4 separate regions of the Homo sapiens genome follow, and regions 1, 2 and 4 are each linked to region 3. Evidence: fine-mapped expression QTL. A gene starts in region 3. Each other region holds a variant in brackets. All regions are shown on one strand. Distances are from middle to middle.

What was found. PIP is the estimated chance that this variant, and not a neighbour inherited with it, causes the effect.
Region 1: its variant is the best candidate, but not a certain one, in a credible set for the expression of FARSB in testis (GTEx, PIP 0.75).
Region 2: its variant is the best candidate, but not a certain one, in a credible set for the expression of FARSB in skeletal muscle (GTEx, PIP 0.58).
Region 4: its variant is the best candidate, but not a certain one, in a credible set for the expression of FARSB in whole blood (INTERVAL, PIP 0.61).

What each region holds. Positions count from the first base shown.
Region 1 is chr2:222,619,667-222,627,494 of GRCh38, forward strand. FARSB (phenylalanyl-tRNA synthetase subunit beta) reads right to left here. Exons shown (of 17, transcript NM_005687.5): 11 at 5,048-5,109; 12 at 4,606-4,813; 13 at 3,984-4,064; 14 at 1-71. Among named protein-coding and RNA genes, the nearest start is that of FARSB, 33 kb to the right of the region's middle. The variant C/G (reference allele first, on the strand shown) is at 4,541.
Region 2 is chr2:222,628,415-222,636,242 of GRCh38, forward strand. It overlaps FARSB (phenylalanyl-tRNA synthetase subunit beta), which reads right to left. Exons shown (of 17, transcript NM_005687.5): 6 at 5,977-6,127; 7 at 4,785-4,893; 8 at 3,190-3,260; 9 at 1,699-1,760; 10 at 423-474. Among named protein-coding and RNA genes, the nearest start is that of FARSB, 24 kb to the right of the region's middle. The variant T/C (reference allele first, on the strand shown) is at 3,655.
Region 3 is chr2:222,653,102-222,659,445 of GRCh38, forward strand. It overlaps FARSB (phenylalanyl-tRNA synthetase subunit beta), which reads right to left and starts at 2,991. Exons shown (of 17, transcript NM_005687.5): 1 at 2,915-2,991. The coding sequence starts at 2,972. It overlaps LOC124907985 (a long non-coding RNA gene), which reads left to right and starts at 3,332. Exons shown (of 2, transcript XR_007088095.1): 1 at 3,332-3,410. RefSeq lists an enhancer at 3,052-3,101 and a silencer at 3,218-3,414.
Region 4 is chr2:222,566,503-222,574,330 of GRCh38, forward strand. FARSB (phenylalanyl-tRNA synthetase subunit beta) reads right to left here. Exons shown (of 17, transcript NM_005687.5): 17 at 397-5,520. The coding sequence ends at 5,369. Among named protein-coding and RNA genes, the nearest start is that of FARSB, 86 kb to the right of the region's middle. The variant A/C (reference allele first, on the strand shown) is at 3,852.

The DNA.
Region 1 (7,828 bases), 33 kb before region 3:
TTACTTATGTGGACTGCCTTTGTTGCAGAGATATCCACACCTAGTTTATCAGCAATATCTTCTTGGGAGCACTGTGAAGTACACACAAAACAGATTAATATGGAAAAGCAATTACTTAAGTTTAAAATAAAAAGTAATGCTGTAAGTCAACTTCTAAGAGCAATTTATATTCTCTACACATATCAGCAAGTTAAGAATAGGCCTGGTGTGAGCTGAAGTAAATGTAATAATAATAATAATAAAAAACAAACAAAAAAAGAATAAGCTAACAATAAATACACATCAATCTCAGGCCCATAGCAGATGGAATTTAACATTAATACTTCTTTCACAATGAGTCCTAGCCATCATACAGAGCTAAAGTAAATTTTTCACATGGAGATGGTATAAACTGTACTCGGGCCCTTCCTAAGCTAGTTTCCCATTTACCTTTCCAATCTAATCTCCCATGATGCCCTAGCCATTCCCTAAACCTTATGTTTCCCTACCTTACCTGAAATGTCCTCCCAGCCTCACCTGCTACCATTCCCTAAGGCTGACTTAAATGACCTCTCTTCCATAATATTCCTAATGACTCTAGTCAGAAACTTTCTCTCCCTCCTTGGTATTTCATGACTTTCCATTTTGACTACCATTATAACCCTTGCTAAATCCATACTGACTTGTGGCAGAACAGTAGGACTGACAACAGAATTCAAGTGACTGGAACTCTGCCCAGTGTTCTTTACTGTATCACTTAACTTCTGTGCACATGCCTGAAACTCATAACAAATAAACTGCTGAGTACCCACCAATCGAAGAGAAAGATGCTTGCCACCCTCAGAAACCAGCATTGTAGGCAGAAGTTATGAAATTAAAAACTCACTGACGATTAGATACATCAAGTCTAATAATAAATGATATAATGAGATAATGCAAGTATGGTGCCTGGCACAGAGTAAGCACTCAAAAAATACCAACAATGATGATAACTGACAAATCATTACTAAGGATAAATTATTATCATGTATATTAATGCTAGCTTTTTGAAAAAGCATTTAAAACGTAACACAAAAACTGATGTACCATCAGATTATTGTACTATTGTCCAATGTTAGGCAATATTGTTCATTATGCTGTTCTACAACTAGTTTTCAAAGGCTAGTTGGCCTGTATTTCACTTATTAAAACAAAATGATACACATCAACTGAAATGGTAAAAAGAATTCATTTCATGTCAATGTCAGTTCTAGTGATTCTTGCCATGCTTTCTTGAGAAAGATCCTGAAGCCACATCCAGCCATAGCAGAAAACAGCTCCCGGATCTGCTACAGCTGCTGAGATGGAGAATGGTGACATGCACACTGGGGATAAGCGTTTTCCCCACAGCATAAAGAAGTTTTACAGCAAGACTTAGGTATAATGTGACTGATTAATTATGAAATGCAACTGACATGAAGCAATCTATTCTCAAATGAAACTAGTCCTCTCTGTGTAAAAGAAAAACACTCTGCAGACACATGGCAACGCAGCTGTGTATCTGAGTGAACTTGTATTTTATCATGGCAATGGATAATAAGGGATAGTGACAAGAGGCAATTTAAATTAAGCTACCCTGAAGTGGCAGTAGTTAGTACACAGTAAGAAACTTTTTTTTGTTTGAGACAGAGTCTCACCCTGTCGCCCACACTGGAGTTCAGTGGTGCAATCTCGGCTTGCTGCAACCTCCACCACACCCGACTAATTTTTGTATTTTTAGTAGAGATGGGGTTTTGCCATGTTGGCCACACTGGTCTCGAACTTGTAGCCTCAAGTGATCCGCCCGCCTCGGCCTCCCAAAGTGCTGGGATTACAGGCATGAGCCACCATGCCTGCCAGGAACTTTTTTAATGTTAATATTTATGTGTTTATTTTAATGTGTTAGAAAAATACAACAAGTAAATGAACCTTATAGTTTTTACAGATATTATTCCTATAACAAGGCTGAAGTACATAAGCCAACTTAAAAGTGAGCCAATTTAAAAGAAAATATTACAACTACTATGCAGATATAGCAAAAATCAATATGATGAAGTGTGAATTATTTACACTTAGAAAGTCAGAGACTAGGCTTAAAAAAATGGCTGTTACTCTTGTGCAAAACTGGATTTAACAACATAGACCATCTTTGCTCAGCGATGCTTAGGCTTGCCTATAAACATCTTTATAAACATCTTTAATGTTGAAATTCCTACAGGAAAATTTAGTACAAATCTGAAACCCTCTAGGAGCTCACTCCTTTCTCTTCCCCCCAGTGATAAACATTGAATGTATTAAAGTGACTTTGGACAGCTAAACAGACTGTTTCTAACATCCCTGGTGTGACAGTTCAGTCACAGGCCTTGGATGCAGACAGGCATGGGCGGGAATCCCTGATCCACAGCCATGGCGTAGGACAAGTTACTTAAATTAACTGCTGTGAAAGACAGGAATGCCCACTTCACAGGAGTATACTGAGAAGAAATGGAATCATGTACACAAAGCCCTTGGCACAGGGTAAACATTCCCTGCAGAGCAGCCACTAGTCAAGACTCGGCCTCTGTGCTCCTTCGAAGACACATGAGGCTCTAAGGTCACAAAATCAAACTGGCAATGGATATTGTAATAAGTATAAAGTATAAGTATAAAAAGGATAAAGTAATAAGTAACTTTTTTCAAACTGGCACCACTAATATAAAAGGGCAGGGAAAAATGCATACCCAAGTTTTAACAGCAGTTGTTTCTGGGGAGGAAAAGAGGATTCGAAGTGGGGAAAAGAACTGTTATGGTTTAATCTACATGGTTAAAGTATGAGTCCTTTAAAATAAGATGTATTCCTGTGACACTCATATGTTTTAAAAAATAAAAATATATTTTTCAATGTTATTTTTGGTACTTCATTTTATATGAAATCCTGGATGCTCACAACTACAAATGTGTGTATATATATGTGCAAAGATGAATGACATGGCATTACAGACCTAGTGTACACGGTATGAGACCATGGAAAAGCACTGTTCTAGGAGGCTAAAGGTCAGGACCCTGCTCATGATATAATGAGATCATGCAGGTATGGTGGCCTGGAACACAGCAGTTCTCCTGCTGTCCGTGTAAAATGTGCTACGTACTTATCCTCTCTCAGCCTCAGGCTTCCTCATTGGTGCAGTGCCTGACATATAATAAATGCTCAACAAATGTTGAATGAATGACTCCTGAATCAGAAAAATCTTAATGCTTAATATTTATTAAGCAAACTAGAAGTAGAGTCCCTTAAATACTCTAAAATATTGAGAATTTCAGAGGTAGGGCTAAGTTGCAGGGGAGAAAAAGAAGAAGCTTCCTTTCCCCTCATAGATTAAACATACTTGAATGCTCAAGAACTACATTGCAGGCACCACAGAAATGCTCAGCAAGAGGGAAAAACGGAACTACAAATTGCATACACATTTTATTCTTTCAAATGGTCAATCTGGTGGGGGAGGGAAATTTCCTTCTGATTTTGTAATAAAAGTCATTTCCTGATTTAGGCCTTTTATGTCAGCTTTTCAACTCAAAGCAAATGTTTGTGAACATGTTCAAAGACAAAGAAATTAATTTAATGTGGAACAGTCCACAAGCCTTTACCCAGGACGGCATCTAGTGGGCACAGCCATAACCAAATTAAGACCAAATATTCTAACTTAATAAATTTGGTTATGAAATACATTGTGAACTCTCAACACTCACATGAAACTATAAAATACTTTGTCATCTCTCATTTGAGGTATTTTTTTCTAGGCCTTCATTTTCTTTTGTGGCTGTAAAAACAAAAGCTTCAACATTACTTTACCAGGAATTGTATAATCTCAAGTAACAAAGTTATTCTTCCAGAATCTGGAAGTTCTAACAGTCTAGATTTTATAAATTCTTATAAAGCATCATAGAATAAATAATTCAGAGAGTCTAAGTAAATAATCATCTGGGCAGAAAAAGCATGTAAGACATACCAGGGCAAAGGTAAGTGCTTCAGTGAAGCCAGCGGCTGCCATGTCATGTCGGAGAAGTTCAGTGAGCTTATTAAGAGGAAACTGAAAAAAAAAGCATCCACTTGATTTCACCGCAATTATTTCTTGTTTTTTAAAAGGGAGATTTATACAGAACATGCCATTAAAACTTTTTTAAATAAAAATGTTTAAAAGATTAAAAACCTTTTCACCCTTACTAACGTACTGCTAATGCCACTATTTCCCTATCAATATTACCTCCTCCCTCCCCACCGCTCTGCCACCCCTCTGCTCCTACACAGATGTACAAACCACCCCCACTTCCATCTCTCCCACACACAGCTTCTGCCTTCAGGCCCAAGTTGAGAAAATGAATCTCTGAGAGATTCAACAAGGGCTCCAAACTCAAAACTTGTCTTTCTTCAAAGAACTAGTCATCACAGGTTTTCAACTTACTCTAATCATTTGGGCATCTGTTTTGTATCCTCTCCACAGCAAATGCCTCTCATTGCAGAGCATGTCCAAATACTGCTTGATTCCTACGTTCTGTTTTCTCGAAG[C/G]CTTCCTGGCATTAAATAATCAGTTTCTAACAATAAGGAGTGTTTATTTAAGGGTGCAATCTTACTTGATTAGCTATGGTGTAAGTTTTCGGGAGAGTCATCTGAATGTTGTTATATCCATAAGCAATAGCTGCATCTTCTACAATATCACATGCATGGATAATGTCAGCTCTGGTTGGAGGGATTTCAATCTCAATCTGATTCCCATCACCTATGACTTCTGATTTTAAATACATCCTGGTCAGAAGTTTGGCAAGATTTTCTGGAGTTTCTCTGAAAAAGGAATGAACAAACCATAAACTTCATTGGATTATTTTTTTAATGTTTACATTGTGTTTCAACATATGCTACTAGCTGAAACAGTAACCTTTCTTTTTGAGTTCTATCAGAAACCAGATATCTTAACTGATGTTTTATCATTCCTTAACAGACTCTGAAGGATCGCAAAAAAAAAATTAGTCATACGTGTACTTTGTTCTTGAATTAAGTGAAGTTTTCAGAGCATACCTGATTCCAACTTTTTTGTTAATTAGGTCAGCTCTCACCATCTCCTTTCGGTAAGCTAATTCCTTAAATAGAAAGAGTTTAAAAAGTAAATCATTTCCCATCAGATACAGCTTTAGAGTCTTTTCCATTAGTCATTATTGCAGTTCTATTACGTTCCCAAGAAATTGTCATTAGAGCCACACATTGAGAATAAACTTGATGTTTCAAAAACAGTATTATGAGGGATAAATTTGCTATATTAGATTCATATATGAACATTCTACTTGCTAGACAGTTTGCACTGCCTGGAAATAATATAAAATGCCAAACAATTTTCCCTTTCAGATAGTCATTCCCCATTCCCCACAGTAAAACACTGTTGTGCTACATCATTCCAAAGACGTTTATAAATCCTGCTAAAGATTTTCAGTCTCGTCCTATGCAAGCAGATGGATATGACCAAGAAAGAGTAATTCCAATATCACAGTGTCCATCATACTAAGTCTAAGAGCATGATGAAGATATTCCTTTCTTACCATTTCCAGGTGGAGAAATGCAATGATGAATTTGGTACTCAGTCTCCTTCAAACAGTATATAACTCCACCGTATTAGTGAGGTGAGAACACACACACATAAATCCCAGGCTTTTCAACACCTTTGGAAATGTCCTTATGAATATTTCTTATCACTCATTCACTCTCAAAAGTATAACATGCCACTAGCAAAAAGGCCATAGATTTTAAAACCTGTTTTGATTCAAGTAAGGCAATGGTCTGGAACCTTGCTACTCAAAATGCGGTCCTCAGAGCAGAAGCACTAGCATCACCTGAGTGCTCGTGAGAAAGGCTGACTGCAGGTCTTGATAGCTAGTGGCAGTGACACCAGAGCTACTGAAGCCCAATCTGCACGTTTTCAAGATCCCCAGGTGATGAGAATGCACTGCAGGGTTTGGGAGGCACAAGGTGAAGATTGCAAAGTAATAATAACTTTTCTCAATAGTTACTATGACCTAAACAGTTATTATGAGCTGAACAGTACGAGATGCATTTTAAAGATAATCTTACTTAATCCTCACAACAGATGCTATTAGTATTCTCATTTGACAGGTAAGGAATTTGAATTTTAGCTGAATAACTAGTTCCAGGTCAGAATAGTAAACTGCCAAGTCCAAGTGCTGCTATATGCCCAGTGCTTATTATCTGATTATCAGATAATAAGCGTTTGGTATATGTATTTAATAAGTGAATGTATGCATACAAGAAGTAACAAATGGCTGGGCGTGGTGGCTCACGCCTGTAATCCCAACACTTTGGGAGGCCGAGGTGGGTGGATCACCTGAGGTCAGGAGTTCGAGACCAGCCTGGCCAATGTAGTGAAACCCCATCTCTACTAAAAATACAAAAAAGTTGGCTGGGCATGGTGGCACAAGCCTGTAATCCCAGCTACTCGGGAGGCTGAGGCAGGAGAATCGCTTGAACCCAGGAGGTGGAGGTTGCAGTGAGCTGATGCTACTGCACTCCAGCTTGGGTAACAGAGCGAGACTCCATCTCAAAAAAAAAAAAAAAAAAAAAAGAAGTAACTAATGAACAAATTAATGAATTAATAAATTAGGACAACCTAATTCCAAAGTACACACCATTAACCATTAGTCTGACTACTGACAACTTATCTCCCCTAGTTCTCTTATTTTAAAACTTTATTTTTTTCTATGAAATAACAAAACACAAGAAAAAAAATTTTCAGAGTTTGAGAAAATATGCTATTTCATGTGAGAAAGAATCAGTTTCCCCCAGAGGATCCTTCCCTAAGAAAAGCTGTTCTAATTTAAGTTTAGGAGGAAATAAATGAACAAATGCCAAAACACTCATGCAGTACTCCTTTTCAGAAAGCCCACCATTTCAAATTTACAAAAGGTCTCTATATTACAAATAAATGATTTTAAGGGTTTATCCATATGAGGAGAAGAGTGAACCAAATATTAAAATATATTTCTCCTTTTCTTCCCAAAAATATATAATCACTTTTATTAACACTTGACAAATCATCATATTGAAAAGAGGCTGGATGCGGTGGCTCACACCTGTAATCCCAGCATTTTGGGAGGCCAAAGCGGGCGGATCACAAGGTCAGGAGATCAAGACCATCTTCTCTAACATGGTGAAACCCCATCTCTACTAAAAATACAAAAAAAAATTAGCCGGGCGTGGTGACGGGCGCCTGTAGTCCCAGCTACTCGGGAGGCTAACGCAGGAGAATGGCGTGAACCCAGGAGGCAGAGCTTGCAGTGAGCCGAGATCGCGCCACTGCACTCCAGCCTTGGCGACAGAGGGAGACTCCATCTCAAAAAAGAAAAAAGAAGAAGAAGAAAAAGAAACTTTTCTCTGGCATTATTTTAAAACCATCTAAAAAGCTATGTCCAGCTAATCCCAATTGCTACTGTCATAAACTGCAAAAATGGCCACAAATTTCTCCCCTCTCTGTATCCATGGCCTTGCAATGTGACACTGCCAATCTTCCAATCAGGAGATGACATCTATTTCTCCACCTGTCAAATCTAGCCAAATGACTGGCTTTGGCCAACAGAATAATGTTTGAAAAATGCCTGGGCACTGGGCATGCTCTCTTGCTGCTAGGAACCCTGCAACCAACCCCAAGTCAAAAAGCCCAAGCTAGCCTGCTATATGATGAGGGACATGTGAGTTGTTGACCCCACTGCCAAGAAGCAGACGTGAGTGAGGCCATCCCAGATCATCCAGTTGCTAGCCAACCAGTCAACTGACTACATATGGGTAAGCCCAGCA
Region 2 (7,828 bases), 24 kb before region 3:
ATAAATATGTACAATTATTATGTGCCAATTAAAGAATAAAAACATTTTTTAAAAAACTACTCAGTTAACTAGTTAATAGAATAAATCATAGGAATTATGACCACACAATGTTGTTGTATAATGTTGTGTTTACAGCTGCTGTCAAACTGTCTGAATTTAGATCCTAGCTCTACCACTTAAAAATAATAAGCAAGGTATTTAACATCTCAAGGTCTCAGGGACTCCATCTGGAAAAAGCTTAATAAGAGCACCTACCCTCACAGGATTATGGTGAAGACTAAATCCATGTAATGCACATAGTGTAGCGCCTGGCACACGGGTGGGTAGGTAGGGGATGGATAGACAGACAGAACATGAGTGCTCTATAGCCATTATTATTAGCATTGTTGTCATAATCATGAAGTCATTTCTTAAGCACTTACTGGAAAGGTATGTGATTTTCCATTAGGAAAAACCACTTCAGCAGCTTCGACCCTGAAAACAAAAGCCAGAAATAAAATACTTAAGAAAAAAATGTGCCATAAATTACAGACATGAGTATGGTTATCAAATCTTTCATTTGGGCTACAACTACAGCCTCAACATACTCCATCTATCGCATTCCAGCACTGTTTGGATTGATCTTGCTATAAACAATAATACTCTACTGTTTCATCTCCTAGGGCTCCGATGTCCTTTTCAGGCACCACCTACTTGAAAGGTTTATTTTCCAGTACTGCAAAGCATGCATCCGACAGGGACTCCTTGCCAATACTGACACACACATTCTAGGCTTTACCAGGGCAGTGTGTTACATAATAAAACTGAAAGAATCACTGAAATGAAAATCAGTTGAAAAAAAACTGATACTGCCCATATAATTTCAATCATGCTTTCTACAGTTATATATTTATTTTCAATTATATTAATATTCTAGAATAAACTATGATGCTAGTACCAAGGACCACATAGATGTGTTAAATAGTTTTTTAAACTAAAAATATGCTTTGGAAAAAATACAGTAATCTTACCGACATGGGATACATGCTTTGCTCTTATATATGCTTCTCTACCTCTGTTTAGCTGCTCTTTTGCTGTTCCTCCATCTATATATTCTCAAATCCAATGATCCCCAAACACAGCTTAAATTTCATTGCCTCCATGAAGCCTTCTCAGATTGTATCAGCTGGCAGTAACTTGCCCTTACAAACAGCCGGAATATCACCAAAACTTTTTAAAGTACTTAATGCTTATGACTTTATCCAATATTTATGCGTATGTCTTATCTCCCTGAACAGATTATATGTTCTAGTTATAGGAACCACATTTTTAATCTTTATATTTGTTTATTCATTCATTTTTTTAAAGCCAGTGTCTCATTCTGTGACCCAGTCTCAAGTGCAGTGGCACAAACATAGCTCACAGCAGCCTCGACCTCCCAGACTCAAGCAATCCTCCTGCCTCAGTCTCCCCAATAGCTAGGACTACAGGCGCAGGCCACCAAACCCAAGTAATTTTTTAATTTTTTGTAGATATGGCATCTTCTTGTGTTGCCCAGGCTGGTCTTGAACTCCTGGGCTCAAGCAATCCTCCCGCCTCAGCCTCCCAAAGTGCTGGGATTATAGGTGTGAGCCACCGCACCTGGCCTATCTTTACATTTAGCACAAAGCCTCGCCTTCAGAACAATGGGCCATCAATAAAGGTGCTGGATGAACTTACGTAAATTGATTCTCACAATATTCACTGAACATGGTGACAATAATATCAAGAACTATTTTTGCCTGCAAAGAAAAGAAAAACAAATATAGTAATCTATAAATATATTCTCTTCACTCAGATGGAAATGAATTAATATTTAATATAATTGTGTCCTCACATCTAATGGACCTTTACGTATACATTTTAAGAAAGGAAGTGGAATAAAAACATGAGTAGGCCTAGCCTTATCTTCAGGTGTTCTGCATTTACGCAGTTCTCTGACAGTTATAATCCATGACTGAGACAAATCGTTTCGTTCCCCAACCCCCAACCTCAGGTTCACTGGGCTTCAACAGAGACAAATGGCTAATTACTGGAATAAATCTTAACAATCTCCTAAGTCTCTGAGGCCAGGCTGCTTGAATCCTGGCTCAAGCACTTATTAACAGTATGACACTAGGCAAACCACTTTTCTTACCTGTTAAGGAGATAATGAAAATTCCTATCTTGTCTGGTACTTACAAAGATTAAATAATTGGCATGTAGTAAACACCATATAGATTTGTTAAATAATTTTTCTATTTCAAAAAAAATTCTTAGAAAAAAAATACCGTGACCTTATTGGAATATATGCTTTACTCTTATATAAATATTTCACTCCTATATATACAGGCTTCAGGAAAGACATTCAAGGTCTGTAAATGCACGAATTAAATTTTTTAAAAAATTAATATTAAAAGCTGTACTACCCTGACAATATTTCTGAAGGCAAGGAGTACCTAAAAGTTATAAAGGAAATACCTTACAATGGTCTCTAATCCTATAAGATGTACATGAATACCATTTATTTGCCCTATTTCTATACTCCAGCCTTCTCCTGCCATTTGAGGTTACCTTTTTTAAATTGTTTAACTGCCACCTCATTTAACATATGTAAAGAAGTCATATGTCATAGAAAAAGCTTTCATAGCAATCCATTCCAATAGATGAACTGACTCAAAGTGGGTGAAGAATTATATTCTAGATAATTTTGTGTGCATAAACCAACCATCTATCAATTTACTAAATAAAGCTTCTTCATCGCCAGTTCCTTTTTTTTTTTTAAGATTTTAACAAGTACACAAAGGTACCAAATTACTCCGCATATAAATTAAGTCAACTAGATAAACAATTTATATGGATTTCGCTATAGTACTCATTCCATTTTGTGTTTTATAGTTACGTATATGACTAACTCTCCCCCTAGGAGTTCTTTGAAGTGAAGAGACATGTAACTCATTATTAAATTCTTGGCACTGGAAAGACATTTGGTGCTCACTAAACATTTGTCGAATTAATGAAAGCACCATAACCAAAGTGTAGAATATCTCTATCTTTTTAATTGTCTAAATTTCTAAAATATGTTCCCACCTACAAAATGCACATATTTTAAATTTTAGCCACTTAGTCTTGGTCCGGAAATAAAATCTATCCCAGCTGATCATACAAAAATTGAGTAAAAGTTTTACTTACCTTAGTAAAGTCAGTTCCCGTGCATTCAATAAAAATATTTCTAGTATTTACTGTTATTCTGGAATGATCCCCTGCAATGAACACAAAACAATAACATTAAAATAACTAATTTCAGAAATAGAAGTGCACTATTAAGCTCAACAAAACAGAAACTACATTTTAAATGTAAAACATATTAAAAACTAACACCTTGGCCAGGGATGGTGGCTCACACCCACCAGCACTCTGGGAGGCCAAAGTGGGCGGATCACCTGAGGTCAGGAGTTCAAGACCAGCCTAACTAACACAGAGAAACCCCTTCTCTACTAAAAATACAAAATTAGCCAGGCGTGGTGGCGCATGCCTGTAATCCCACTTACTTGGGAGGCTCAGGCAGGAGAATTGCTTGAACCCGGGAGGTGCAGGTTGTGGTGAGCCGAGATGGTGCAATGGCACGACATGGTGCAATGGCACGACATGGTGCAA[T/C]GGCACGAGAGTGTGCCATTGCACTCCAGCCTGGGCAACAAAAGCAAATCTCTGTCTCAAAAAAATAAAAATAATAAAAAAAAAACCTAACATCTTAAGAGCAAAGGGATAAACAACTTATATTTAAAGCTCCTACTGCAAGTTGAAGAATAAAAATAAAATAATTAACAGGCCTTTACTGAATGCATACAATGTGTCAGGTGCTATGCCAAGCACTTAACATAGGTTGTCTCCTCTAATCTTTACCACAATCCTATGATGTAATTGCTGGCAAGAAACTAAATTCAGAGAGATTAAACTATTTGACCATGATCATGAGCAGCAAGGCTAGGATTTGGGTCTAGAACTGGTTAACTCTGGGGCCCATGTTCTTAACCACTGTAACTACTAGGGTCCAAGATCTTGAGAAGAAGCTTCTCCTTCTCATAGCAAATCAGCTAAGCCTCCTTCTTACCTCCAGAAACGCAAACATCTATGTCTCAGACATCATTAAGTTTTGTAAATACATTCAAACTGCCTCATAAAAATAGCCTTCAGAAAGGAATTAAGAGGGCAAAATTTAAATTAAAAGTTTTTGTTTAACTATATAACTAGGCAAGGCCAGGCACGGCAGCTCACATCTATAATCCCAGGGCTTTGGGAGGCCAAGGTGGGAGAATCGCTTGAGCCCAGGAGTTTAAGGTTGCAGTAAGCCATGACTGCACCACTGCACTCCAGCCTGGGCGACAGAGCAAGAGCCTGTCTCAAAAACAAAACAAAAAACAACAACAACAAAAAAAAAAAACAAAAGAAAAAAAACTACAGACATGACAGAGTTTGACTTTGAGTTTAACCAAGTGAATTACTTGCTAAAACCAAAACATCAATAACCTTTGAAGAAACATAATAGAACCCAAAACCTAGCATCAGAAAATATTTATAAATGTATGAGCATAAGTTACATAAGAATCACCAATAAAATGTTGTTGAATAAATGAATGAAAAGAATGATTAGAATCTACAAAAGACCTGAGATACTCAGATTATGAGTTATTTGAATTTGATTCAGCCAAGTCTATTGAGAATTCTACAGAAATGCTGAAGATTAAAAGGAAACAGCAAAGATCTGTGATGCTTATAAAATAACTCACCATTGATGATGGGAGGCATTGAAAGGACGACACCATTGCTATCATAGATAACTGGATACAGGGGTTTGTTTTCAATGATATGTAAATAATGTTTCAGGTGATTGTCAGTCTGAAAACAAATTAAGTCAAATAAAATTAGTTTTTTTTTTTAATTTCTATCACTATAGTTCACATACTGACCTAATATTAAAAAAGAAGAGAACGCCAGGTGTGGTGGCTCATGCCTGTAATCCCAGCACTTTGGGAGGCTGAGGCCGGTGGATCACCTGAGGTTGGGAGTTCAAGACCAGCCTGACCAACATGGAGAAACCCCATCTCAACTAAAAATACAAAATTAGCCAGGCGTGGTGGCACATGCCTGTAATCCCAGCTACTCGGGAGGCTGAGGCAGGAGGATCACTTGAACCCGGGAGGCAGAGGTTGCGGTGAGCTGAGATTGTGCCATTGCACTCCAGCCTGGGCAACAAGAGCGAAACTCCGTCTCAAAAAAAAAAAAAAAAAAAAAGGAGGGGAAAAGTTAGAAAAACATTAAAACAGACCCAAATTAAAGAAAGCTCTAAATTTATAAGATTTTCTAATATAAATTAATATTCCAGTATTCAATGAACACAATTGAATCATTTCTCAAGAGTGAAAACAGATTTGCACTGGTATGCCTGAATCATTTCAAAGGAAACATAAACCATGACAAAACTATTTAGATAAATACGAAGAAGTCACTTGCAAATCAGGGCAAGGATGACCCTGCTTTTTCTAAACGACACCTATTTTTTCTACTTATTAAATACAATTCAAAGTGACTACTGAATTCATTTTCGCTGCTGGACTTTTAAATAATGGGAGATAGACAGCTTGTAACAGTATTTCCCACAAAAAACACTAGCTAAGTTTTACTGTTCTTTATACTTGCATGAGTTTCAATTGAAGATTACAATGTGGTATGGTCTACTTCAGTGGTTCTCAATCCTAGCAGTACACTGAAATCATATCAGAGGTTAAAAATTTAATAATAAATAAAATAAAACTATGTTCAGGTCCCACTCTAGATCAGATGAATCACTGTCTCTAGGTTGGAGTCCAGACACTGCTATTTTTTAAAAGTATTGATTACATTTCCCTAGTTGCAAGGCTTGACTTTGATGGAATTTCATGATTTTTGCAAAGCTGCTGCATAATCAAAAAGAATATTTACCTTGTATATGTTCATCAGTTCACAGGCTGTATACTCCTTGGTCTTATTTAGAGGCTTGAATTTGATATCTGAAGGACGCTTTGCAGTATAAGTAAATGGGCCCGACAAAGTGTCCAAATCATGGGTACCAATGGCAACCAGTGCTCTTTTCCTAATTGTTGAGAGGTTGAGGGAGAAGGAGGGAGGAAAGGAAAGGAGGAGAATGAGACAGATTTGAATATTCTAAAGCCGAAATTCTAAAGATAACATAAATATAGACTACATATTTTTTTTAATTATTTCAGATACTTCCCTGAAACAGCATATTGCTACTACATGGCATCATTAGTGGCATATAATGAACAAATTCTCACAACCATTAAGAGTACTGAGAAATCACAAAACTACCTGAAATACATGATTTCAGGAGCTGAAGAAAATTCCTTGCCATTATCTTTTCCCAAATATTGTTTCTAGGATATCTTCAAAGTTAGCATTTCCTTTACCTCTTTTAACCTATTTCTTCTTGATATACTCAAGTAAACATGTTTTAATAAATTAGAACGAACTATCGAATTGTGGGTTTTTTGGCTTTTCTATGTTTTCCTAAATTTTATCACATAGCTGCATTACCTTAGTCATGGAAAAAATTTAATTTTAATTTCAACAGCTCTGAATTACAGTTCAAGTTTACTTTAATGTATAAGGAAAGTTCAAAAGGTATTCATTTCACTTGTTCTACAGTTTATCCACAAAGGATTTAAGGTAATTTTAGGAAATTACAGCAAGCAACAAAATAGGAGAGAAAGAAATAGAAGTAGGGATGTAAAACCGAGCCAGGAAATGTTAATTCTGAATTAGAATCTAAAAGCCTAAGTCTTACCAGGAAAGGACACAAGTTTGGCTTTCTAACAGTCAATTTGAAAGGAGGAACTTGGTCAAAATTTGTGTTCTTAACATTCTTTAGTTTAAAGTGTATGTGCACTAAATTAGTTTAAAATGCTTAATATTAAATTTTGGTCAACTTCTAGGACTGCAGGACTGGTGAACTACAACTTTAATAAATAGGGTTAAAAAGAATTGCTAACAGGCAATAAGGGAGTGTTACTTTACTCAATTAGTCATATGCTTACAGAAGATAATAAACCCAGAACTATCATAGGATAAAATATGCATGGTTTGATAAATGCAGGTAAATTAATAATTGACAAATGCACAGGTAAGAAAGTCTGTCTTCTTAGATATTAACATTGGTCCCTTAATCCTAAAACAGTACCTCAAAACATCACCAAAATTTCAACTTCAAATCAGCAACAAAAAAACGTAACTCCAGATGAATCAAAGACCTAAGCATTTTGAAAAGCAAAAGACAAACACACAGGCACACATACAAAAGACACCATAAAAATTATTCAAAGAAAATACAGAGGCCAGGTGAGGTGGCTCACGCCTGAAATCTCAACACTTTGGGAGGCCAAGGCAGCAAGACTGCTTGAGCCCAAGAGTTCAAGACCAGCCTGGGCAACATGGTGAGACCCCATCTCCACAAAAAATGTAAAAATTAGCTGGCTGTGGTGCCACACACTTGTGGTCTCAGCTACTTGGGAGGCTGAAGTAGGAGGATCACTTGAGCCAGGAAGGTCAAGGCTATAGTGAGCTGTGATTGCACCACTGTAGTCCAGCCTGGGCAACAAGGTGAGACTCTGTCTCAAAAAAAAAAAAAAAAAGATAAGAAAATATAGAAGAATATGCTTAGGCCGCACGCGGTGGCTCATGCCTGTAATCCCAGCACTTTGGGAGGCCGAGGCAGGTGGATCACAAGGTCAGGTGATCAAGACCATCCTGGCTAACATGGTGAAACCCCGTCTCTACT
Region 3 (6,344 bases):
AATTGAAGAGCAGTGATAATAAATCAGTTAACAAGAAAAGGAGTGGCAAGAGGAAACCATCTGCACAGAAAGTCCGTTGAAAAGGTAGACTAAGGAGACAAAACTGCTCCAAAGGAGTCAGAAGAGCAAAATAACCAAAATGGCAAACAGCTTGAAAGAGAAATATCCTTGCTAAGCAAAGAGGTGGTAAAAAGGAAGGTGGGGACTGGTAGAAACAATGGAATTTCAAATAGAAAGCAACCCTTGGAGGGACTAAAGAGAGAGAATGTGGATTTTAAAAGTGTGAATGAGACATTATCTGAAAACAAGAAAAAAAGAGGAAGACTGGGGAAAAAAAAAAAAGGTAAGAAACAAGATGTATCCATACTACTTGGAAACCACATGTTTGCTGAACATGCTTTTTCAATTCTGACCTCAACCCAGTTAACAGTTTCAAGCAAGAACACAATAAAGGTAAACTAATGAGGAGAATCATTTCTGACCTCTTGAAAGTACATCTCAATAAATAACATCAATCCTTCTGACTGAATTTTTTTTTTTTTTTTCTGAGACAGGGTCTCACTTTGTGGCCAGGGCTGGAGTGCAGTGGCTTGATCACCGCTCACTACAGCCTTGACCGCCTTGGTTTAAGCGATCCTCCGGCCACAGCCTCCCAAGTAGCTGGGACTACACGTATACACCACCACACCCAGCTACTTTTTGTAGAGACAGGGTTTTGCTGTGTTGCCCAGTCTGGTCTCCAACTCCTGAGCTCAAGCAATCTGCCCACCTCGTCCTCCCAAAGTGCTGTGATTACAAGCATCAGCCATGTACCTGGACCTTAAAAGATTCAGTAGCTAACAAACACATATTTGTGAAAAAATCAATCTTAATTGATCACTGACAATATGAAAAAAAAAGGGAAGCAGACAGAATATGTTAAAACATCAGATGATAGTAAATAGGTTATAAATCTCACCATTTTTAAAAATCTGGATTATTTCTTACCTCCCTAGAAATGGAGACTGGGATGGGAACTGATTATAGATGTTTTGAACAAATATTTGCCACCTACCATCTTAGGCAATTCAGGTATACAGACTGAGCATTCCCAATCCAAAAATCTGAAATCTGACATGCTCCAAAACCCAAAACCTTAAAGTGCAGACATGATGTCACAAGTGGAAAATTCCACACCTGACTCCATGTGACTTGTCAAAAACACAGTCAAAACCTTGTTTCATGCAAAAAAAAATTATTTAAAGTATTCCATAAAATTAACTTCAGGCTATGCATATAAGGTATATGTGAAATATAAATCAATTTCATGTTTAGACTTGGTCCCACCCCCAAAATATCTCATTATGTATATGCAAATATCCCAAAATCCAAAATCCAAGACGCTTCTGGTCTCAAGCATTTTGGATAAGGAATTATTAACCTGTACCACATCCCATTAGTGAGAATATGGTTTAGAAGGGCAGGTAAGAAATATAAATAAGCTCATTATAAAATAAAGCGATTAGGCGATTAGAGCCAAGTACAAAGGGTAAGAGTAATACAATACCCTTGTATTTCCTTTACTTTCAGGGACTTATGGCAGAACTTACGAAGAATATCACATAGAGAATAGGTACTATCTAAAAGTACACACTTAGGAAAGATTCTTAAAAGCCAGCTTTATTTTCACTGTAACAGTAATCTTATTCTGGGAAGCGGTGGCTGTCATTAAACCAATTAGGCCTTTGTTAACACACTGAGCCCTAAAAACAAAAAAAACAGCTCTCACGAACCAGTTGGTCCAGCCTTTATACAAGCTAAAAATTATGGGGTGGGGGCCGGGCGCGGTGGCTCACGCCTGTAATCCCAGCATTTTGGGAGGCCGCGGCAGGTGGATCACGAGGTCAGGAGTTTAAGACCAGCCTGGCCAAGATGGTGAAACCTGGTCTCTCTAAAAATACAAAAAAATTACTCGGGCGCGATGGCGGACGCCTGTAATCCCAGCTACTCGGGAGGCTGAGGCAGAAAATTGCTTGAACAGGGAGACGGAGGTTGCTGTCAGCCGAGATCGCGCCACTGCACTCCAGCCTGGGAGTGCAGACTCCGTCTCAAAAAATAAAAATAAAAAAAAAAATAGGGTGGGGCAGCTGCTACGGCTGTGAGGTAACTGATAACTGCATTTAATATCTCCCTCCTTTTTTTCAATGGTTGTGTTTTTAGAACTGATTAAAAGATGAAATGTAGAATGAAGTCTACACCCATTTAATACTCCCCATTCAGGTCTCAGATCAAATGTTACCACCCTATCTAAAGTTGTTCTTGGCACAACACCTTTTCTTTCCTTGATGGCATTTAACATTATCCGAAATCATTTTATTAACGTGCTGGTTAATTGTCTGCCTCCATCAGACAGAACGTGGACCTGACGTGTCGTGTGCACAGCTCTAGTCCTAAGCTCTTAGAACAGTGCCTGACACATAACAGGCGCTCAGGAAACATTAATAAAACGAAGACAGGTGGAATGCCGTTCTCCACCCCGCTGCACAAATCTCTCCTCCTACCCCCTTATAAACTGAGTTCCCACAGCGCTGCTATTGCAATTAACTGGCTACGCTCGGGATGCAACCCCGGGTTTCCTTCCTGTTCTATCCCCTGGCTTGGATGTCGGTGCCAGGCACGCTGTAGGCACTCGATGGCAGATCGCTGAATGAATGACACGGCAAGCCGGGCACAAGCAGTGGCACCGCTGCGATGCCGGTTCCGAGGCTACCACAGCCCAGCCGGACCGCCACCATCATCGGCCTTCCCGCGTAAACCCCGGCCTCCCGGAGCCAAAACCTTCAGGAAGGCATGAATGTCGCCACATTGCCCTTTTGGAGGGAGGCCCTGCCTCCGAGAAGAGGCGTAGGGCCCAACGTATAGGGCCGCCACTCACTGTAGGTGCGGCCCAGGGCTTGGAAGAGCAGATCACGCTTCACGCTGACAGTCGGCATGGTGTGTCGAACTCACTGCGCCTGCGCAGCGAGCTGACCCGGGCTTCCCTAGCGAAGCGCGTAGGACCCGCCTCTTCTTGTGCGTGTTGTCTTGAATATCGCCATTCTGCTGGCAACAGTTCCTGTTCTCTTTTTAACCTAAAAACACTCATCATGCCATTACCTCGCTGATTAAATGTATCTTTATGAGACTAATAGCTTAAAAGCCTGTAAGAAAGATATAATTTGATAGAACTGGCTAGGATTTGTCAGGCATTGTAATGTACTGACCCTGAAGTCCCGGATGCTTCCAGGGCGCTAACGGCCGGGGACGCCCACCAGGTGGGCGGGGCGAGAGTGGGGCGCGTCAGGGAGGGGGTGGGGCCTCCACGTGGGAGATCTTGCCTGGAGGTGGTGGAAATGCGAGTGGAGAGGGTTCAAGGCTTCCTGCAGAGAAAGGTGTGCAAATCCTGGCGGCGGGAGAGGGGCTGTTAACAGACCTCAGTTTTTACTTCATTCTTTAATCTCTCCTCTACTCGTATAAGTGATATACCTGTGCTTTGTTTGAACTTTACGGCAGCCCTATAAGGGAGGCATTGTAAGAGACCTCTTTTTTTGTCTATTTGCTCAGTGCTCTCTGCTGTCAGTGGGCTGTGCTCAGCCCTCTGCCAGCATTAAATTTCCTCCTTAAAACAACCCTGAGTGTAATAGGCTGAATAACGGCCCCCAATAATATCAGACCCTAATCCCTGCAACCTCTAAATGTAACTTTATATGGAAACAGCGTCTTTGCAGGTTAAGTTAAGGATTTTGAGATGAAGATTATCCTGGATTCGAAAGACGAACACTAAATGGAATCACAGTATCCTCATCAAATCATAAAAGGGAGGTTGAGAGAGACGATTTAGCCACGGTGGCAGAGATTGGAGTATGGCAGCCACAACCCAAGGATGCCAGCAGCCACCAGAAACAAAGAGACAAGCACACACTGGGGGTGAGGGGGTGGAGGAGCGGGGAGCATCAAGAATAGCTAATAGATGCTGGGCTTAATACTTAGGTGATGGGATGATCTGGGCAGCAAACCACCATGGCATACATTTACCTATGTAACAAACCTTCACATCCTGCACATGTATCCCTGAAATAAACAGAGACAAGGACAGATTCACGCCCAGCCCATGGGGCAGCCCTATAATGCATGCTGATTTGGGCCCAGTGAAACTGATTTTGGGTTTCTGGCCTCCAGAACTGTGAGAGCATAAATTTATGGTTTAAGTCAGCAAGTTCGTGGTAATTTGTTTCAGCAGCCAAGGGAAACTAATACATCAAGATAGGTACCATTATCCCTGTTTTACAGGTAATGAAACTAAGGCACAAACTGGCAGTTCCAGGGGGAGCCTTGCCCTAATCCTTTCTACTGTACAGTGAGTGAGGGCTTCTTCCAAAGTCCTTCACATGAGGGGAGAAAAGCTGAGCCAGATGTAAGCCACCCTAACTATTAATCAAGCAGTTTTTCACTATACAGTATTAGCTCCCCTCCATGGGAAGGCAGTCCCTTCCCAGTGACCAACATAACAGATTGGCAACACCCCATAAATGGCAAACATCCCCAATGCAAAATACAGCTTTCCACCTAAAATTGGTGCTTTCTGCTCAATTAATAAGCAAAGGACTAGTGCCAGGCATGATGGCTCACACTTGTAATACCAACACTTTGGGAGGCTGAAGTGGGCAGATCACTTGAGGTCAAGAGTTGGAAACCAGCCTGGCCAACATGATAAAACCCCATCTCTACTAAAATTACAAAAATTAGCTGGGTGTGGTGGTGGGCACTTGTAATCCCAGCTACTGGGGAGGCTGAGGACTGAGAATCACTTTAACCCAGGAGGCAGAGGTTGCAGTGAGCCAAGATCACGCCACTGCACTCCAGCCTGGGTGACAGAGCAAGACTCTGTCTTAAAAGCAATAACAACAACAACAACAAAATAGTAATAATAAATAACCAAAGGACTTCCTGCTGACCTGCTCTGCTTTGGGCACTCCAAAGTGTTCTGTGGCCTCTGAACCTCAGTTTCCTCATCCATAAAATAGGGATAATAATATACACCTTAAAGAATTATTGTGTCCCATATCTGTAATTCCAGCACTTTGGGAGGCCGAGGTGGGAGGATTACTTGAGCCCAGGATTTCAAAACCAGCGTGGGCAACAGAGTTGGACCCCATCTCTAAACAAAAAGAAAAATTAGCCAGGCATGGCGGCAACACACCTATGATCCCATCTACGCGGATCACTTGAGCCCGGGAGGTTGAGGCTGTGGTGAGCTGTGATCGCGCCACAGCACTCCAGCCTGGGTGACAAAGTGAGACCTTGTCTTAAAAACTAAAAAAGAATTATTGTAAGAATTTGAAATAATACTCATAAATAACTAGTATAGTTCTTATCATGTCAGAGGTCCTGGAAATGGGGCAACTGTCATTTTTTTTAATCCTCCTAGTTAGTTTTCTGCTAGTCTCAGACCACCAAGGGGCATTTTGTTCCCATCTCTCACATCCCCCAACTGACCTATCCTACTTTTTATCATTGCACATGTTACAGGTACTCTGTCCCTTCTCTGTGAGAAGCTAAACTGTTAGAAGATTCTAATGGAAAAGAGGAAACTAGGCCACTAGGGCTCATCACAAATGGCATTAGCTAACTGAAAGGAAAGGTACATGGAAAATGATGAGATCGTATATCACAAAATGTAGGTACATGCTTCTTTCATCTAACTTTGGGGCCAGACTGAAAGCAGGAATGAGGTGGCAGCATTTCCTAGGAAGGAAAGACGAGCTGGACAAAAGGCATGGAAAAACTCTCAGCTCAGCAGAAATTAAGGAGATGCAAATAAAAATTATAAGGACATACATGTTTATACCTAGGAGACTGCTAGAAGTCTTAAAGTCTGAAAAAAATCAGATCTTGGCAAGAATTTGGGAGTATAAATTGATATAACCTCTTTGGAAAATATGGCCTTACCTAGAAAAATGGGGCATGTCCATATCCTACTACCCAGCAATTGCACTGCTAGGAATATTCCCCCAGAGAAACTCTTACCCATGTGCACCAGAAGACTCAAATAAGAATTTTCATGGTTACATTGTTCATTATAACAGAAATCTAGGAACAACCCAATGTTTGTCAGTACTAGAATGGGTAGACAGTTATGATAAATGTATACAGTGAAACACCATACAGTTATGTAAACAAATGAACTACACCTGCATGTATCAACTTGGATAAATCTTACGTTGTAATTTTGAGGGAAAAATGTAAATCACAGAAGAATATGTATCCTTGATGCCATTAATATAAACACTAAAAACCAGGCTAACCTAAAGAGTATATTGTTAGGC
Region 4 (7,828 bases), 86 kb before region 3:
ACCTGTCAAGCGGAGGCCCGGACTGGGGTTTGTATTGAGGCATGGTGGAAATCTCTCTTTGATCTTCAGGATACTTCAGTGTCTTTTTATTAGTGGCTAATTAGGAAGGCTAAAATGATCTGTGTTTAGTGTGCACTGTGCATAATTGGCCCCCCTCACAGTGGCACCCATCAGGTTTCCATGTGACAGAGATGCTGCAGACTGGAAGCCTAGGAGGCTTCACTCCTATCTGCGCTCATGGATACAGGTAGATTAGGGAACTGCTACAGACTGTCCCAGAGGTGTACTGCTGCCTTGAATTTTATCATGCATGCCACTCTCTACTTTTTGAATGCAAGTTTTCAATAATGTGTTTTAGTTTGCTGGGACTGTCACAACAAAAGACTATAGGCTGGGTGGCTTCAATAAAAGAATTTTATTTCTCACAGTTCTGGAGGCTAGAATTTCAAGATCAAGGTGCCAGCAAAATAGGTTTCATTCTGATCCCTCTCCTAGCTTGCTGGTGGCCACCATGTTGCTGTGTGGTCATATCACCTCTTCTGTATGTGTGCGCCAGGTAGGCAGAGAAACAGAGCAAGCTCTCTGGTGTTTCTTCTTATCAGGCCACTGAGCCTTTCATGAGGGCCTCCCTCTCATGACCTCATCTAGCTCTAATCACCTGCCAAAGGCCTCATCTCCAAAGACCATCACACTGGAGGTCAGAGGGTCAACATGAATTTGTGGGGATACATTCAGTCCATAATAATATACATAAAGTTATTCAAGGCCCTAATAACATAATAAGCCAGAACTTGGATATCAGATGGGTCAAAGGCTTTCAATGCTTAGGAGGCATATTCTGCTTAAGGCAATGGTGTCCCTTGAAGGCTATCTGTTTGCTTTTGGATAAAATGGACAGAAGGGCCAAAGTAAATACTCAAGTATTAGGGTTAGTGATGTTATATAAAACACCAAGCACAAATAGATTAAGATTGAGAAGCAAGATTGTGAGTAATGTTCTCTCTTACCAAGCTGATGAGCCCATCATTGCTGAGAGCAGGGGCAGTGGTTAGGCTGGCTGGTTTGTAGTAGATTACTCCTGTTTAAAATGTGAGAACAGTCATTCAACATGTTTTAAATTCAAAACACATCCTTTGACCTAGCGACTTCTACATCTAAGATGTAAGGTACTGGAATAATATATAGTTCAAGTACAAACGTCACATCAAAGAAATATCTAATGAACTCTATGCATCTCTGAATGTGTCTGTCAAATGTGGATATTTATACAGTCTTGCACCCATTAGGACTGGTTTTCCTTGGGGTCCTAAGCCAGTGCTATTTAGCAGGATAGGGGGTTCATTGGAGCAGTGTTTATAATTGCAAACAGTTGGAAACAACTGAATGTCCACCAACAAGGGAATAATTGAACAATTACGGACATCTGTACAATAGAATATTACCTCATTTAAAAGAATGAGATAGGTCTATAGGCACTGACCTGAAAAAATGGGGCATATTAAGTGAAATGTCATGAGATATATGTAAAATAAAAAACAAAACTTGTTGCAAACCAGTAAGTAGAGCATGACCCCCAAAAATGTGAGCAGGTGTGTGTGGCTGACTGTACAAATCAAGGAAAATGTCCAAACTAAGGAACAATACAGGCTAAATTGTTAACAGCAGTTAGTTACTTCAGGGAATCAGGAGGAAGAAAGGTAGATTAACTCAGTAAGGCCACAGTTTGCAGAGTTTTTTTAAAGTATTGGACTTAACAATTTTTAACTTTTTGTCTCCCATTATTTTTATATTTTTAAAAAGTGTAGAAAGTCCCATTATTTACTTTCGCATAAATAAGTAAATAATGCAAATCAGTGAGTGGTCTGTGGACTCCAAGTCACTCTTTTATAGTGTCTCAAACTCATTTATTGGCTATGTGACTTCTGAGTAAGTTATTGATCTCTCTGAAACTCAACTGTTTTCACCCTACACATCAGGGAGAATTCCTACTCTCATACCGTTATTAAACCAAAAAAATTAAAATGTGAAAAAAGATCAATTCAAAAATAATTTAAAAACAGAAGAGCAGGCTGGGCGCCTGTAATCCCAGCACTTTGGGAGGCAGAGGTGGACAGATCGCCTGAGGTCAGAAGTTCGAGACCAGCCTAGCTAACGTGGTGAAACCCCGTCTCTACTAAAAATACAAAAATTATCCAGGCATGGTGGCACACACCTGTAGTCCCAGCTACTCGGGAAGCTGAGGCAGGAGAATTGCTTGAACCCAGGAGGTGGAGGTTGCAGTGAGCCAAGATTGTGCCATTGCACTCCAGCCTGGGTGACAGAGCGAGACTCCGTCTAAAAAAACAAAAAACAAACAAAACTAGAAGAGCACTGCAGGACTGTGAGGCTGTAGTGGTAGAATTTAAGTTTTTTCTAAGCTAGAACAAAAATCAATTCCATTTAATTTTCACTTTAATACTAGAGCTCCCAGTTTTTACTAAGAAGGTGTGCATCTTCTGTAATAAAGGCTTTTGGCAGTACTCACAGACTGCCCTGGCTCCAGTTCAAATGCTTCACCAGGGACAAGTGTAAGATGATCTGGCTGCAGAGCCTCGACTCATGAGCTGGATTCGCTTCTTCCAATGCAGCCGACACTGTTTTTCTGCCTACCATTTCCTGCTTCCGAGGGCAGAAACATCTACATGATGCATGGAGTTGATCTTTCCCCTTTCATGCTGGGATATACAATTAGGCATTAGTGGGTTTTTCATTACAAGTAATTTTGGCCACCCCCAAAAATATCCAGGTGGGTAGCTGCTGACAGAACAAATGGTTCCACCTACTTCAACAAGGGCTATCATATGATGATCCATAAGCCATGATTTTAACTAGAGCGAACCTGAAACTAAGGGAGAATATATCATTAATAGCTGTGGACCAGTGAGCCACCTTGAGCACAACTGCCAATTCTACAGTTCAGGCTATTTCTCTAGGCATTTATCAACTGGTGTTATGTAGTTAAAATCAGTAAAATACTACATGTTACATTACATTCTTTTTCTCCCAGCTTTACAAAGGTATAACCTACACCTGAAGTACACCTACCACCTCAATTAAGATAAAATTTCCATCACCCCAAAAAGTTTTCTCTTAACCCACTGCAGTCAGTTCTCTTTCCTGAGGTCCTGCCGACCACCTGCTTTTGACTTTTTTAGACTCTCAGGTAAATAGAATTAAATAGAGTCTTTTGTGTCTCTTGCTTTCACTTAGCATACTGTTTTGAAATTCATTCATGTTGTTTTGAGGATCAGTAGTTCATTCCTTCTTATTGCTGAGAAGTATTTCATAGTATGGATATACTGCAATTTGTAACTACTATAAGTAACACTGTGAACACTTGCATAAAAATCTTTGGCCATATGGGTAAACCTAGGAATAGAATGGCTAGATGGTAGGTGTATGTTTCAAGAGACTGCCAAGCTGTTTTCTAAAGTCACAATGTAACATTTTACATTGTGACTCACCAGCAGTGCATGAAAGTTCCACTTGCTCCAGTCTCAGCAGTATTTGATTTATGAATCTTAAATTTTAGCCATTTTAATGGGTATGCAGTTTGTCATTGTGAATTTTAGTTGCATTTCCCTGATGACTAACGATGTTGAGGATCTTTTCAAGTGCTCATTCATATGTCATCTTTTGGGAAATGTTTGCTCAACTCTTGCACATTTTTAAAAAACAGTTGTTTTATTTTTACTATTAAGTTTTATTATTAAGTTTTAAGAAATCTTTATGCATGCTGGATACAAGTCCTTTTGGCATGCATTATTTTTAGAGGGCATATTTCATTTTTAAAATGTTGTAAGGATCTGCTT[A/C]TAACAGAGCTGTGAAGGGTCAGCTGGAAGTGTGTGTGTTCACAAATCTTACAGAGTTAGACACTGCTGCCCCAATTCAAGGTTGTAATATGGTCAGGTTTTCTCCTAGTAGTAGACTCAGCAAAAGATCCATAAACATAATTCTTATTTCACTATCTTTGTTAGCTACTTCTTCTTTTTTTTTTTTGTAGACAGAATCTCACTCTGTCACCCAGGCTGGAGGGCAGTGGCACAATCTGGGATCACTGCAACGTCCACCTCCTGGTTCAAGAGATTTTCCTGACTCAGCCTCCCAGGTAGCTGGGACTGCAGGCCCACACCACCATGCCTGGCTAATTTTTATATTTTTAGTGGAGATGGCATTTCACCATGTTGGTCAGGCTGATCTCGAACTATTGGCCTCAAGTGATCTGCCCACCTCAGCCTCCCAAAGTGCTAGGATTACAGGCATGAGCCACAGCGCACCCAGCCTTTGTTAGCTATTTCTACTGGGACTTTAAAGTATTATATTTTATCATATTTCTTATTACTTCAATAGTACCTGGGAACTTGTCTCAAACATGAGACCCAGCTTTTTTCCAGAGATGGTACCTACTGGAGAATTCTAGATTGAAGTAAGAAAGGAAATTAGGATATAAAACAAGGAGGATTGGCTGAAGCTTAGCTTCAGAAAAAGAGAGGTCTAATATCTCCCTGGGACAATAGAGAAACTAGTAGCTCAATTAAGTATTTAAAACCATGATTTTATAACTGACTGATTACAGTAACATGTATGGCCTATGGCAAAAATAAGCTTCTCATTGTTTCCTAATGTTCATACTGCATTGATATCAATACTTGTCCATTTTAACTCTTACAGCAGAACAGATCTTTGTTGCATGTACTCTATCTTAGAGTATCACAGATAGAGTAAAAAATACCTATGCACCCTCACATATTTTGAATCCTTGTATTACAGATTTTTCTTTCACTTTAAACTGACCTCAGAAGCTATAATTGTTGGACCATAATTGATTCTTAAACGTTTTCTAAAAATATTGTTATTTTAGTGTTTCTCAATGATGAATACATGTCAAATGTAGAAAATCAAAGCTAAACCCCTCAGTTATCTCGAACTCATGCAACATGAATTCTCATCGATTATCTTGTTTTATCAATAAGGAAAGAAATGGGATCTTGTTATGCAGGAGTAATCCGTTCCAATGTGATGTTCTGATGTCTGAGGAGCACGTCTGCCTTTCAGAACAGATCCTGCACTCTGCTAGTGCATTTCTCCAGCACTCCACGGGGCTTTTACCCAACAATGCAGCTTCACACACAGACACCACACTGGTATATGGCACAAGCTGGCCTAATATGCAGGGAAAGGATGGTCTCTACCCACACAGCCAGACAGTGCTTTCTACTTTATTAAACATCAAAGCCCAAATAGATGTTCCCTGTGGAGGAGGACTTAAGGACACTAGGGGAGGAGAAAGGGACACCTGGGAAGAGAATCACACCACAGAGACCAATCTTCACAAAAAGGGTCCAACATTGATTTCTAGGGAGGAGCAGGGCATGGTCAGCTCAAATTTGGTGATAACGTCAGGATGAAGGACCCCAAGCTTCCCGACGCTTTGACCCCTGGCAAAGATCTCTGCACATCGCCCGGGGAAGAAAGCAGGCCCTGAAAAAGAGAAAGTAAGAGAAAAATCAATGTTTCTTCTGGCAAAACATCAATAGACATTTAACACTAAAAGCCCACTAGTCTACTTTAAAAATAACTATTCTTTAAATCACTGGCTATGAAAAGAGAACGCTTCCTCATACTTTCTAGTATTTAAAAGAAGGATTTGCTATCAAGAAACTCTTGCAAGGAAAAAATCCGGGGCAAATATGAAAATAAGGGCCCTGTATTTTTGGTAACAGGGACCCGAGCAGGAAGGATGAAATCATGGAGGCTGCTGAAGGTCCACAGTCAGAAGTCCTAGGGGAACTCTGCCTGCACTTGGAACTGGTCCTAAAAAGGCCAAAAGGAAAAAAATGAAACATAAAACTGATGAACTTAATGGGAAGAACCTGTTTTCAAACAGGTTTTTCCATAGCAACGCTCACTGGATAAGACATCGACACTGAATTCATTTGCTCTGTACAACTCTTCCTCACTCTTTCTCACCTTATTACATAAAGAAACTGGAGCCGCCGTGTCATAGGCCGGCTACTGGGGGAACCACACCTCTGATGACAGGCCATGCTACCAGAAGGCAACCCACATTCCCATCTGAAAAGAGCTTTCTAAGCAGTTCTGAAGCATCTACTGTAAAACCACAGCAAAGGCCAGCCTAACACAAGTCTGGGTTGATGCCTCATTTACTTCAAGACAGGCAGAAAGTTCTCTTTATCTGGGTGCCAATGCACTGATACAGCTTACCAAGGCAGTAACAGTTCTTGAGATTTACAGAGCTAAAAATGAACATATGGGCCCACTCCATATTCATGAAATTACCAGTGCCACAGTAAATTATCAGTGTTCTGTACTCTTCTGAAGTTTACAAATATGCTGACTCACTGCTCTCACCACCAACTTGAAAAGGGATCAGGCCTGCAGCTCCTGACAGATTCAACAGAAACATTTACTGGCATAAACTATAAACACCCATGCAGAGCTGGGCCACAGTGTCCAGCCTGCCACTTCAGAGTGAGTGCATTATTGATGAAAGAGTAAACTGCTGAGTCTCTACTAATGGTTCCAAGGTCAGCATGCTTAGGAAATACAGAATCAGGTTGGAGGGGAGGGGAACCGGCTACTGTCAAGTTAGTACCACAGAGACAAAGGACAATTACATATATTTCTTGACCAGCAGAGAAGGATCTTTGTTTATATTTCTGGGGAAAGAGCTGGAAAATATTCTAAATTGTCATTCTTAAGTAAACCCAAAGCAACAGAGGTGAAATATTAAGGTGGCCTCTTTTTCACATCTCTCCAAACTAAACAATTCTGCCTCACTGTCTTTTAAAGCAAGAATTTCAGTGACTGCATTTAACTATCTGGCTCTGCACACTAATCCACACTTGGGGTGAGGGATAGGGAGGGAAACCAAATAAAACAATGCAGAAACCAAACCCAACTAATATTATAGAGCCTTAGTTTCATATTAATATGAATATTCACATTCATATGAATATTACTAAATCTGATAAAGATGGCACATTTTAATTCTATCAAAATAAATGTCTAACTTAAAAGACAAAACTCTCCTCCCCTCGACTCCCCAAAGGAGAAGAAAAATCTTCAAATGACATGTAAGTGAAGATTATATAAGGTGTTGATGGTAAGCAATATAATCAAGAACTGCAGAACTGGAAGGACTGCTGGGAATTATTTATCCCAGCACCCCAGCACCCCTATACAGAGCTAGACTTGAATACAACCACACTACCTGAAAAAAGACACCAGCTTGCTGTGGTTTTTATGAACTTTTATCTTATTAATAGATTCAACGGGTACGTGTTCAAGTTTGTTACCTGGGTATATTGTGTGATGCTGATGTTTGACACCAGTCTATTTTTAAGGGACACTCAGAAAGGCAATGTTCAGGATCTTCCCTGATAACTTTACTGTGTTTAAGAATCCTCATTGTACCAAAATCCATCCTTTCATCTATCTTCAATTCCAATTTGATTGGTTTCATTTTTACAAGCATAAAACCAAACTATTTTGGAATCTAAGCCAGATGTGCTAGTTCTAACAATGTTAGCAAAATAAAGCCTAAGAGATAAGAGCTTAGAATTTTTACTTCATAAAACAACTTTTCGAATCAGCACTTTTTTTTTTAGCAAAATTCAGTTATATTCTTCTTCAGTTGCCAGATCTACCTCTCTCCAGAAGTTGGGATCAAACTTTGCTTTAGCTCATTAATCAGTTAGGTACTTGATCAGACAAAAAATATTTGTGTCACTAAGTATAATTTTCCCTCTTTCCAAAGAAAAGCAAA